Homo sapiens: one gene and its partners. The protein of the gene in region 3 purifies or fractionates together with the protein of the main gene of each other region. This does not show direct contact. Each region holds a gene or a part of one and is shown on either strand. Other genes may lie near its edges.

Region 1 (3,500 bases), on a different chromosome or scaffold from region 3:
ATTTCCTAAAAAAAAGTTTCAATCCTCTTAATTACACTGTATGATGATTATATTAGAGCTTACTCTAATATAAGGAATTAAGGATATGAAGGAATATGTAAACCAGAACAGATACTGAAACTTTAGAGTCCTAGGCAGACAGATAGAGAATATTTTTGAAAGTTAAATGAGAAAACAAAACAAATCAAAACAAAGCTCTATCAAAGGATTCAGTAAATATATATCAGCTTCCTGTGTTCAAAACACCACAGTAATTTATAATGGATTGTAATGGGTCAACGAACTAAATGCCAGCTACACTTGTTGATGAGTTTAAAATACATACTTATTTTAAAATTAGCTTCCTTCTCAAATGCAATTTTAAAATACAATTTCTATAAAGGGTGAAATATGGTGCCTTTTTTTCTCTAGCATATTGGTGAAGAATAAAAAAAGCAATGCTACTTAATGGTGGTTACAGGATGAGAGTCCTTAAGAAGAGAAGTTGATTAAAAAACCCAAATAAACAAAACATTCTTTATTTAATAACTTAAAGATTATGCCCTTTAACCCAATAATTTCACTTCTAGGAATTTATCCTAAGGCAAATCTGGATATGTGGCTAAAGATTTATGACACTATTAAAACTGTTTAATTCATACTCATAACTACTTATAATGATATTTTCTCAAATATGTTAAGGCCAGACAGAACTTGTACAAAAGAAAAATGAATATTTTTGTTCATTTATTATTTGAAATAGGGCTTAAAAATGCCTGACCAAATCTTCACATAAAACCCAAGTAATGTTCAGCTTCGTATATTCCTTTCATTGTTATTATTATTATTGTTTTTCTTTTTTTTTGAGACCGGGTCTCGCTCTGTTGCCCAGGCTGGAGTGCAGTGGCAGTGATCACAGCTCGCTGCAAACTCTGCCTCCCTGGTTCAAGTGATTCTCCTGCCTCAGCCATCTGAGTAGCTGGGATTACAGGCTTGCATCACCGCACCCAGCTAATTTTTGTATTTTTAGGAGAGATGGGGTTTTGCAATGTTGGCCAGACTGGTCTCAAACTCCTGAACTCAAGTGATCCACCCACCTTTGCCTCCCAAAGTGCCGGGATTATAGGTGTGAGCCACTGCACCCGGCCATTATTGTTATTTTTTAAGATAGGGTCTCGTTACATTGCCCAAGCTGGTTTAGAACTCCTAAGCTCAAATGATCCTCTAGCCTCAGCCTCTTGAGTAGCTAAGGTAACAGGCAGGTGCTACCACACCCAGCCCTTTTTTAAAAAAAAAATAGTGCAAATACAGGTCTGGCTCACATCTGCAATCCCAGCACTTTGCAGGGCTGAGGTAGGGGTATTGCTTGATCTCGGCAGTTTGAGGCCAGCCTGGGCAACACAGCAAGATGTTGTCTCTACTTTTAAAAAACAAAAGAAAAAAATACTGAAGACAACTATTTAATAGCTGAAAAGCAATCAATTGATTACTTTCACATTTACTTTCTCTGTGACTTCAGAGAATGCGCACAATATATTCTCCAATGAAAAAGGTCAAACACACACACATATATATACACACACACACGTATGATGTCCAATTATGCTTATTTGTATGTTTGTATAACTAAATGCTAGTATCGTTAGATTATTGGTGATTTATGCTTTTCTCCACTTTCCAAGTGTTATACAATGATCTGTGTTATCTTCATAATTAAAAAGTTTATTAGTATGAGCATGTTGAATTACAATAGTTACATTTAGTAAGTTTTACCACTTACGTAATAGAAAAGAACACTGGAGTCAGAAAATCAAGTTGCACTTTTACCATTAAATAGTTATTTAACCTTTAACTAGACACTCTACTTCCTCATCTATAAAATGAAAAAGTTAGACTAAATGATTTCTAAATTTCTATGACTTACAAAGTATAAAAAGAACATACTGTGACACAAAACCAAAAAGATAATTTGAGTTAAAAACTCTCGCCGGGCACGGTGGCTCACGCCTGTAATCCCAGCACTTTGGGAGGCTGAAGTGGGCGGATCACGAGGTCAGCAGATTGAGACCATCCTGGTTAACACTGTGAAACCCTGTCTCTACTAAAAACACAAAAAAATTAGCCAGGTGTGGTGGCAGGCGCCTGTAGTCCCAGCTACTAGGGAGGCTGAGGCAGGAGAATGGCGTGAACCCGAAGGCAGAGCTTGCAGTGAGCTGAGAGCGCGCCACTGCACTCCAGCCTGGGCGACAGAGCAAGACTCCGTCTCAAAAAAAAAAAACAAAAACAAAACAAAAAACTCTCAGGCAGCCGGGCGCAGTAGCTCATGCCTGTAATCCCAGCACTTTGGGAGGCTGAGGCAGGCGGATCACCAGGCCAGGAGTTCGAGACCAGCCTGACCAACATGGTGAAACCCCCGTCTCTACTAAAAATACAAAAATTAGCCGGGTGTGGTGGTGCACGCCTGTAATCCCAGCTACTCAGGAGGCTGAAGCAGGAGAATCGCTTGAACCTGGGAAGCAGAGGTTGCAGTGAGACAAGATCGCGCCACTGCGCTCCAGCCTGGGCAACAGTGTGAGACCACGTCTCAAAAAAGAAACAAAAAACAAACAAAAAAACCCAACTCTCTTGCCAGTATTTTATTATTAATGAAATAGAATAAACAAATAATTACACAATCTTGAATATGACAAAAAACTAAACATAAAATACCTTTGTACTTGATCTCTGATTAGGATCTTCTCTGGATTGCAGAAGTCCTGCACCCAAGGAAGGTAACTGTGTCTGAAATACAGACACACGGCCACCTGTTGGAGACATTAATTTAAAGGCAGCCTGAAGTGCAGGACCAAGGGCACTGTGTGTTTCTCTTGTATTGGTGAACATGTTTGGTAATGCATTCAGTAAGTCTTTTATAAGCTGAGAAAACAAAGATCAAAAATTGAATTACTGAGAAGGCAAAGGAATAATCTTATTTTAAAACATTCCATAGTGTATCATGTGTCACTGTATTTCTGGGGACTGGAAACTGAGGAGTCAATAGATATGCCATTTATATTGTCTATTATTTGTAATACTAATATATCAAGTAAACAAATGTTAAATATTTTAGTTACCAGTCACAATATAAATATTTTTATGCTTTAAGAAAATAAATCAATCTTACCTCTTTACTTTCATATAGATTCACAAGTAAACTATCCGGTGTAGGTAGAAAAACATCTATAGGGAAAACACATATTTTAATCAACAAATCGAACAAAAGAATACATTAGAAAATCTTAGTTTTTATCAGGTCATACATGTAATGTGTACTATAATTTTGCTTTATTTTATTTATTTTTTTGAGATGGAGTTTTGCTCTTGTTGCCCAGGCTGGAGTGCAATGGCATGATCTCGGCTCACTGCAACCTCCACCTCCCGGGTTCAAGCGATTCTCCTGCCTCAGCCTCCTGAGTAGCTGGGATTACAGGCATGCGCCACAACGCCTAGCTAATTTTGCATTTTTAGCAGAGACGGGGTTT
Region 2 (3,500 bases), on a different chromosome or scaffold from region 3:
ATAAACTGGCTCGTCTCTGTATATTTAGCTTAGTCCCTTGCCATTCCTCCAGTCTTTTTCTCTGTAACCATGAGCACTTTCTCTTCTCCCAGACTCTCATTATATGCTTCTCTATGCCACCAAAATGCAACACAACTAAATGGTCTGTCACTCCCATTATTCCTTAAGCTCCTTAAAGTTAGGAGCTATACATTTTCTAATTCTGTATACAATACCTAGCATCTAGCACAATATCAGAGGCAAGTGACTGTTGTATAAATTAAAGTATGAAAGTGAGTATTATGATCCATTATTAAGGTCTAAAATACTATGGCTTATTTTTCCTTTACATAATGGCAATGGGGGAAACTATATATTAGGTAATATTTTGCTCTATTTTAAAAAATTACAATGTAATCTTACCGGTAAATAGCATCAACAAATTTTGTAGACATCTTTTCTTAAACATTAGTTTATTAACTAAGAGTATATATTTAGCTTGATGCTTATTCAATGGAAGCTCATGCTTGGCTCTATATTATCTACGTTAGTGAAGTGAAACATTAGTGCAAGAGATATTTTACAAGAAGTCGTAAAAACAGATTTTAACTGGACAATTCCAACTACTTCATTTACAGGTGAGGAAATGAACTGAGAGGTTAAGATATTTATGCAAAATCACCCAGCTAATTAGTGGGAATGTTGGGTGACACCCAGACTCCCATAATGTTGATGCTTTCAGCTACAATATAACTTTATTCCTATTCCAACCTCATAGATAAGCCAGGGGATTCTCTTTTTATTTTTATCTTATTTTATTTTTTTGAGACAGAGTCACGCTCTGTCACCCAGGCTGGAGTACAGTGCCGCGGTCTTGGCTCACTGCAACCTCCGCCTCCCAGGTACAAGCAATTCTCCTGCCTCAGCCTCTCAAGTAACTGGGATTACATGAGCACGCCACCACATCTGGCTAATTTCTGTATTTTAGTACAAATGGGGTTTTACCATGTTGCCCAGGCTGGCCTCGAACTCTGGTCTCAAGTGATCTGCCCACCTCAGCCTCCCAAAGTGCTGGGATTACAGACATGAGCCACAGTGCCCAGCCGGATTCTCTTCTTCTCACCCTCAATCTAGGGGGTATATGGGTCCTTAATACATGCCACATTTAACTGACTCCTTTAATCTTTAAGATGTAGCCTCTGCCTTAACACCTTCTCCCTGTAATAAACATTTGATGAGTACCTACGTTTGTTGAGCATTAAACACATCTAAGCCATTCCACTGGGAGGAAGGGGAAAAGGGAGAGACAAATGCGAATAAGAAAGACATGGTCCCTTCCTTCAAATGCTCTGCAAAATTAGTTACAATCTGGTATAGTATTCATTATTACCATCTGCTTAAATAGGTACAAATACATAGTACGAGAAAAATCTAATTACCGTCTATTATGAAAATGCACCTTATTTCTCCCATTAGCAGATAAGCTCCATGCAGGCAAGGATTTTTCTCTTTAGAACAGTGCCTGACAAAGAAGGTACTCAACAAATATTTGAGTGAATAAATGCTACAGAAAAACCCCTAAGTAGTAGGATCCAAGTAATGTTTCCAAAAATGGTATGACAAGAAAAGTAAACCTTCTTCTCATGCTCAACAACATTTTTCTGTTGGTTTACTGAGAACTTGACAGGAAACTGAAAATAGTTGAGATGGATATATTTTACTACTTAATTCAACATCATGCTCTACCCAATTGTACCAAACCCTAGAAAACCTTCCAAGAAAGGAAACCTACAGTCCTTCTATGACTTAGTCCTGAGCCCTTTTTCAAGTACAAAGGGTCTCCAGATGTTTTCCTTTTTTTCTTATAATAGGTTCTGGGATCTCTGTGTTTGCCCCCCACTTGTGAAGATAATAATACTGGTAACAAAAACATCTCAATTACTATCTATCATGTACCAGACCCTTTTCATATATTAACTCAGTATTTCAAAACAACTCTCAGAATTGGTATTGTCATCAACATGGTTTTACAGAATGGGAAAAATGGTAAGCCTCTTATCCTTTGAGTGTCTTCTTCCACAATCCTGGCTATAAGTAAAATACAATCTCATTAGCTGCACCCTGACTTTCATTGTTGCCCCCCATAACAAGCACACAGAGTCTCTGATTCTAAAGGTTTTGCTATTAACCAATTCAAGGTAACAAAGACAGGATAATAAAAATAACAAATCTGGAGATGTTCAAATGTTCAACAATTCAGCATTCAACATATGTTTATAAATGCCTGGTACCACACAAAAATCAGACTCTCAAAATTCTTACGGTGAGAATCCCTAGCCTCCAATTTACTAGCTATTTTTTGAATAAATGGGAGCCTTGCTAGGTCTAAAAGTTTTTCCTCCCCACTACCTTACCTCCTGATCTCCCAGGACACGAATCAAAATACACTAAAGGGAAAAATAATGGGTGCATCTTCATTGAGAAATCTGTACTTGTGAGTAATTTAAGGAGTCACATCCCTCTTGTGAAACTCTGACCCACAGAGGAGTGGTTACTTTTAGGTCATTTCCTTACAATGTAAGCATTTGTTCTCTTCCCTTTTCATAGAATACACAGAACTTCCAGTTTTCATTCTACATTTCCAAACGTCTGAACAACTCCTCAGCTCCAAAAGTAAACTCCCTATCATCCTCTCTCCTCCTAAATCTCCTTCCACCAAAACCTGTTCTTCATGATAATATCCTTATTTCTGTTAATAACATCACTATCCTCCCAAAAATTTGTCCTAGGCCTATACTCTGGTCAGTTCCCAGTGTCAATGTCATTATAATGTCAACATCTTTCAAATCTATACCTTCACTACGATCATCACTTCTTGCCTCAACTACTATAATTAAATTGCATGGTATTCCTACTTCTAGGCTTCCACTCTTCCATTGGACCTGTTCACAAATTATTATCCATAAAGAGAGTTTCTTCTTAACTAAAAATCATATATAAAATCTTTAGTCTGACATTTAAGAATCTCCATAATCTGTATCCATCTATCTTTACCAGTCTGGTCCTTAAACATATATCCTTACCAAATGTATTCTGCTTTTCCTATCTCTATACCTTTGCTTGGGCAGTGTCCTTATGTGGAACTTTTTTTTTTCCACCCTCCTTCAACTGCTAACAATCTTTCAAATGACCTCATCCTCAATGAAAAAAAAAAAAAGGCTAAGGCATATAATTTACTAAACATATACGCCATCTGATTGCTTCACAAATTATCTGAATCCCCACAAAAACAAGTAAGGAAGGAGTTAAGGAAATTGAGGAGGAGCTTCCCCAAGGTCACCAGCAAGTACGAATCCACAATAGCCCCACAGCATTCCATATTTTTTAATGAAATAAGACACAAAAGAGACAGACGTTCTGTAGTCAGAATACCTGTGATCAAATTCCAGCTACTCCACCAGCTACTTGTGTGAACTCAGAAGTTATGTATCTGTGATGCCTTAATTCCCCCACTTCCCACT
Region 3 (2,252 bases):
CTCCATAGAGAGGGTGCAGGGGAAGGAGCAGGTGTGTTGGGAGGATTGCAAAGTCCAAGCAGACGTCAGCTGAGCTCATTCCACACGCCGCTGTCCCACTCTTTGGGGGCACTCCCAGCCCTTGTTGGTCTCAATGGCATTTCTCCCCTCCTGGGTTTCCTGGTCTGGTATCCTACCTACTGTACACATGCCCCAAACTCTGCTTTGAAGCCCAATTCTCACCACGTGGCATGACTGTCCCAGCTGGCCACCTTCCTGGAATTCAGCCCAAATCAGTACTTTTGGGAACTTCCTGCAAGGTTTCAAAGAAGCTTTTCTGACACACAGCCACCATGGAGGGTGTTCCAGTCCCCGGACCCTGCTGTGGACATGAGGACACCCATCCCCCACCAGCCGAGCCAGCTGCAAAGGCCTCATAATCCAGCCCCGGCCACCCAGAAGGACAGTGAGCACAGCCTATCTGAGAATGGTATTTGAATCTTTAAGAAAATGAGACTGACTCCAAAATCTAAAACTACCTTTATTGTGGTTGGCTCGACATAAGATGCCGCCATCAGCAGAATTATAAAACTGTACAGGAGGCACAAAAATAGGCTGTTTAACTTAGATAATGACCCTCATGTCTTCAAGCTTTAAAAATGCACATAAAAGTTGTACAATCTGGCAGTTTATAAAATATAAAGCTAAAAAGAGGATTTTGGGTTCCACAAAGAAGACTGTATCACACAATTAACACGTACTAATTAAACAATTAACCATCCACACAGAAGACATAATGGCACAGAATTCTTAAAAATCACCTAAAAATTAACATTTTACCCCGACCAAATTAATCACCCTTTAATAATAAGACTACTGTAAAGCATCCATCCCATGGAAGGATACAGTATCACTTTTCCAGTTTTAAAATGGTCAAGGGTGTTGTCCAAAACAAATCTGATGTGCTTTAAGCAAGTACAATTGTAACTGGATACATTTCAGAGTAAAAATTAAATAAATATAAATAGGTTAAATAAATAGGTCATTGCAAAAAGAACACTACACAAGGTTTACATCTGAGAATGCAGAGTAGGTGACTGGTAATGCTTTCTAGGTAAGTGGGGACTCCCCATCACAGCTTTAGGGACACTGAAAAGGAATACTGTATCCACCAAACACACACACAGTACACAGGGGAGGTGGGGGGGCTTTGGCCAAAGTGTTGGTTAAGGCTGCTCCAGTGGGAGGCTCACTGCAGTCACGTTCTTTGTGGCTTTCCAACGTCTACAGAAAGAATTTAAGCGCCGGTACAAAAAATCAGAACCAGAGTTACTCACGGGAAATCACTGTTTCATAAAGAAGGAGGGGAGTAGACCATTGGGTTTAAAAGATGATGTCCAACCTGGGAGGGTGGAATTTCGGCTCACCTGGAGAGGATGCCTGATGACTTCCTGCCAGGAGAAGCCAAAGCCAGGACATAGTCAACCAAAATAACTCCAGGTTGGTGAGGGAAGGGACAAGGAAAAGAAACACTGGGAAATTCAAAGAAAGGCAATCTCAGACACTAAAAGAGCAGAGAGAGAAAGCGACATGGGGGACTTAAAGAGGCTCCTTCCAGGGCGCTGGGCTTCTCTTCCAGCACAGAAGGCTGCAAAAGTGGAACTGGCCCCCAGTTCCCAGAGGATCACAAGGCCAAGGATCCAATGGGCACACCATGAGGACCCAAGGAAAGGACAGAGAAAGGAACGGCTCTGGGAAAGCCAAACCTGGCCAAAGTCCAACTTCCTGAAAAGAAAGCAGCCAAGAGGAGAAAGCCGTACAATCCAAAGGTCCCCCCATCTGCATGAACGGTTTGATCAGCAACCAATTAATCTCTCACTGCAGCAAGAAAAGAATTGCCAAAGATAACTGAATCGCATGCACACAAAACCTTACCAAAGGCTCAGGGTCAACTCTGATAAGGCCCTTTCTTCTAGAGTTGGTGGGAAGAAACTCTGCTGGATCTACTCACCTGCAGATCTTCCAGAACATCTATCTGTAACTGATCAGAGTGATGTCTCCTTGGAAGGGCCTCTGACCACCACTGCACTGAGAACACGGCGGGAGTGAGAACACCTGCGCACCCAGGATTTCACACTTAGCCACTAGATTGCTTCACAGCTAATCAGGGAAATGCCAGTGTTCCCCAGGTGAAAATGTTTTGGTGCCTAATGACTTGTGGAGCACTTCAAAAACTGAGATTAGGCCGGGTGCGGTGGCTCAAGCCTGTAATC
Region 4 (3,500 bases), on a different chromosome or scaffold from region 3:
TACTCGGGAGGCTGAGGCAGGAGAATGGCGTGAACCCGGGAGGCAGAGCTTGCAGTGAGCCAAGATCACGCCACTGCACTCCAGCCTGGGCGACAGAGAGAGACTCCGTCTCAAAAAAATAAATAAATAATAAATAAATAAAATAAATAAATGTGGCCAGGTGTGGTGGCTCACGCCTGTAATCCTCGCACTTTGGGAGGCTGAGGTGGGCGGATTACCTGAGGTCGGGAGTTCAAGACCAGCCTGGCCAATATGGTGAAACCCCATCTCTACTAAAAATACAAAAAGTTAGCTGGGTGCAGTGGCACGTGCCTGTAATCCCATAATCCCAGCTACTCTGGAGGCTGAGGCAGGAAAATTGCTTGAACCAGGGAGGCAGAGGTTGCAGTGAGCTGAGATTGTGCCACTGCTTTCCAGCCTGGGTGACAGAGCAAGACCCCATCTCAAAAAAAAAAAAAAAAAAGAGAAAAAAGAATGAAAAAAAAAACTACTAATGAGTGTTATAGCTTACTTAATTTGTCTAGCAGGCTTTCTGGTTTTTGCTGGAAAGCCGAAAAACAAAAAACAACAAAAAACTACTAATAATTTTAAAAGTCACATTTTCCATATGGTTTTCAGGTTTCAAGTATTATTTCAAACATCTAAATAAGCAAAAGTTTCACATTTCTACATTTTAAGCACTTCTATAAGAATACTACCTGACTTTATGAAGCTATTTTGAAGTGAAGGATATCCAGAAGAAACATATTGATGATTTGTGGTTAAACTTGTATTTCCAGATACAGTTGGTTGGGATGATGCACGAGGACAATGGTTTGTTTGTGAGGCTGTGGATGGATAGTTATATTGCCAATTCAAAGGTGGTGGCAGGTTGGCTTCAGGAAGAAAGCTACTAGAAGGCATTGGTGTAGTAGCTGGGTTCTGAGAAGCAGGTAATGGCATTCGGGGAGCAGGACCACTATGAAGCGAAGGTGTCACTGGATTAGAGGCCACAGGTGGTCTATTAAGAGTCTGCCCAGATCCCTGAGAACCACCATAGTTAGACTGTCCAGAGACTGGATTCAAAGTCTTTGCTGGTATTGGATGAGGGTAGGATCCTGGAAGCTGGAAATTGTATCCTTGGCTCACTGACTCTTGTGAAGACAGCAATGCATTTTGGACAGGACCTTCCAATAAAAGGAGGAAAAATTAGTCTTACCAACGAATATAGCAATACTTTAAGAAATAAAGTAAAACATATATTCTTACAGTCAGCAATAAAAACACATAACTCAATTAAAAAATAAGCAAAGGACTTAAATAGACATTCAAACATACTTCCAAAGAAGATAGCTAATAAGCACATGCCAAAACATTCAACATCATCAGTCATTAGAGAAATACAAACATAATTAGTCATAACAGAAATGTAAATCAAAACCACAATGAAGGCCAGCGCAGTGGCTCACATCTGTAATCCCAGCACTTTGGGAGGCCAAGGCAGGTGGATAGCTTGAGCCCAGGAGTTCAAGACCAGCCTGGGCAACATGGTGAAACCCCATGCCTATAAAAAAAAACAAAAAGTAGCCAGCCTTGATGGTATGCGCCTGTAGTCTTAGCTACTTGGGGGGCTGAGGCAGGAGGATTACTTGAACCCAGGAGGTCAAGGCTGCAGTGAGCCAAGGTCACACCATTGCACTCCAGCCTGGGTGACAAAAAAAAAAAAAAAAGATGGACTAAACAGTAGCAAGTAACAGAGGGAATACAGAGATGTCTCAATAAATGAAAACATTTGTAAAAAAATAATATATAAGCATATGTTGGGTCACTTGGATAAAAATAGGCCATCTCACAGCCCAATGTTGCCACAAGATGTCCTGGCCTAGTTTCATATTTGTATTACAATTTTATTTACTTACTTATGGATTGATTGATTGATTGAGACAGCACTTTACTCTGTCATCCAAGCTGGAGTACAGTGGCACAATCATGGCTCACTGTAGCTCTGACCTCCTGGGCTCAAGCGATCCTCCCATCTAAGCCTCCTGAGAAGCTGGGACTACAGGCATGCACCACCACGCCGGCCTAATTTTTTTTTTTTTTTTTTGTAGAGACAGAGACTCACTATGTTGCCCAGGCTGGTCTCAAATTCCTGAGCTCAAGTAATCCTCCTGCCTCAGCCTCTATAAGCGCTAGGATTACAGGCGTGAGCAAACAGGTTGTATTTACAATCTTATCACAAGCTAATACGCTAAAGAGGTGCCTTCAAGCCAGGTACAGCCAAGTGAAAGCCAAATACCATCAAAATGTACAAAATAAGCAAAAATTTGACAGGCCAATAAAGATGAAAACATGCTGGGCATGGTGCCTCACACATATAATCCCAACACTTTGGGAGGCCAAGGCGGGCAGATAGCTTGAGCTCAGGAGTTCGAGACCAGCCTGGACATAATAGTAAGACCTCGTCTCTATAAAAAATATAAGAATTAGTTGGGTGTGGTGGCGCCTGCCTGTAAGTCCCAGCTACTTGGGGCTGAGGCAGGAGGATCACTGAGCACAGGAGGTTAAGGCTGCAGGGAGCTGCGTTCACGCCACTGCACTCCAGCCTCTGTGACAAAGTGAGACCCTGTATCCTGTCTCAAAAAAAAAAAAAAAAAAAAGAATATGAGGTCATAAGGCCAACTGGCAGGAAGACAGATACAAAAGAACTTGTTTTGTGGTAGTCACCATCATAGACCTATTGTGAGTAACTATTACATGAAAATTTTTTTTTCTGACATCCCTCCCCACTATGTGAAAATCATATATGGATCAATTACAAGTAGTTCACAAAAAGTGTAGTAATAAATATATAATGACACCTTCACTAAATGGATAATTTTTTTAAATTCTGAAGTCATTACTAAGTAGCCCATCAAAATAATGGGTCTGTGAGGCCAGGCGCGGTGGCTCACGCCTATAATCCCAGCACTTTGGGAGGCCAAGGCGGGCGGATCACGAGGTCAGGAGATCAAGACCATCCTGGCTAACATGGTGAAACCCCATCTCTACTAAAAATACAAAAAAATTAGTGGAGCGTGGTGGCGGGTGCCTGTAGTCCCAGCTACTCGGGAGGCTGAGGCAGGAGAATGGCGTGAACCCAGGAGGCAGAGCTTGCAGTGAGCCAACATCGCGCCACTGCACTCCAGCCTGGGTGACAGAGCAAGATTCCATCTCAATAAATAAATAAATAAATAAATAAATAAATAAATAAATAAAAATAAATGGGTCAGTGATTGTGAAGGGGTCCAGAATACGCTACTATGGCATAAAAATTATTTTAAGCAGAAGGCATTTGAGTTCCTAAAATCTCTTATCTGCCTAAAACAGAGCCTTCCAAAAGAACTCAATTGTCATAATCTACTTCCCAGGGGCAACCAGGAAAGATGTCAATCTGACTCATGACCTGAGATGAGAAATTTCCACACCACACCTAAACAGATATCATCACAAAACTATCATATCTATTCTAAAAGCCCATT

The links.
Region 1: the proteins of ERN1 (region 3) and SEC24B purify together in Homo sapiens (co-immunoprecipitation; one study listed by IntAct). This does not show direct contact.
Region 2: the proteins of ERN1 (region 3) and RNF13 purify together in Homo sapiens (affinity purification with western blotting; one study listed by BioGRID). This does not show direct contact.
Region 4: the proteins of ERN1 (region 3) and SEC24A purify together in Homo sapiens (co-immunoprecipitation; one study listed by IntAct). This does not show direct contact.

The regions. Positions count from the first base shown.
Region 1 is NC_000004.12:109,520,815-109,524,314, reverse strand, and holds part of SEC24B (protein transport protein Sec24B), read right to left. Parts: intron 3,199-3,500; coding exon 3,143-3,198; intron 2,896-3,142; coding exon 2,689-2,895; intron 1-2,688. UniProt on the Homo sapiens protein: Component of the coat protein complex II (COPII) which promotes the formation of transport vesicles from the endoplasmic reticulum (ER).
Region 2 is NC_000003.12:149,816,215-149,819,714, reverse strand, and holds part of RNF13 (E3 ubiquitin-protein ligase RNF13 isoform 1 precursor), read right to left. Parts: intron 2,429-3,500; exon of another isoform or gene 1-2,428. UniProt on the Homo sapiens protein: E3 ubiquitin-protein ligase that regulates cell proliferation. Involved in apoptosis regulation. Mediates ER stress-induced activation of JNK signaling pathway and apoptosis by promoting ERN1 activation and splicing of XBP1 mRNA.
Region 3 is NC_000017.11:64,038,642-64,040,893, forward strand, and holds the end of ERN1 (serine/threonine-protein kinase/endoribonuclease IRE1 precursor), read right to left. Parts: 3' UTR 501-2,252; downstream 1-500. UniProt on the Homo sapiens protein: Serine/threonine-protein kinase and endoribonuclease that acts as a key sensor for the endoplasmic reticulum unfolded protein response (UPR).
Region 4 is NC_000005.10:134,658,785-134,662,284, reverse strand, and holds part of SEC24A (protein transport protein Sec24A), read right to left. Parts: intron 1,167-3,500; coding exon 699-1,166; intron 556-698; exon of another isoform or gene 496-555; intron 1-495. UniProt on the Homo sapiens protein: Component of the coat protein complex II (COPII) which promotes the formation of transport vesicles from the endoplasmic reticulum (ER).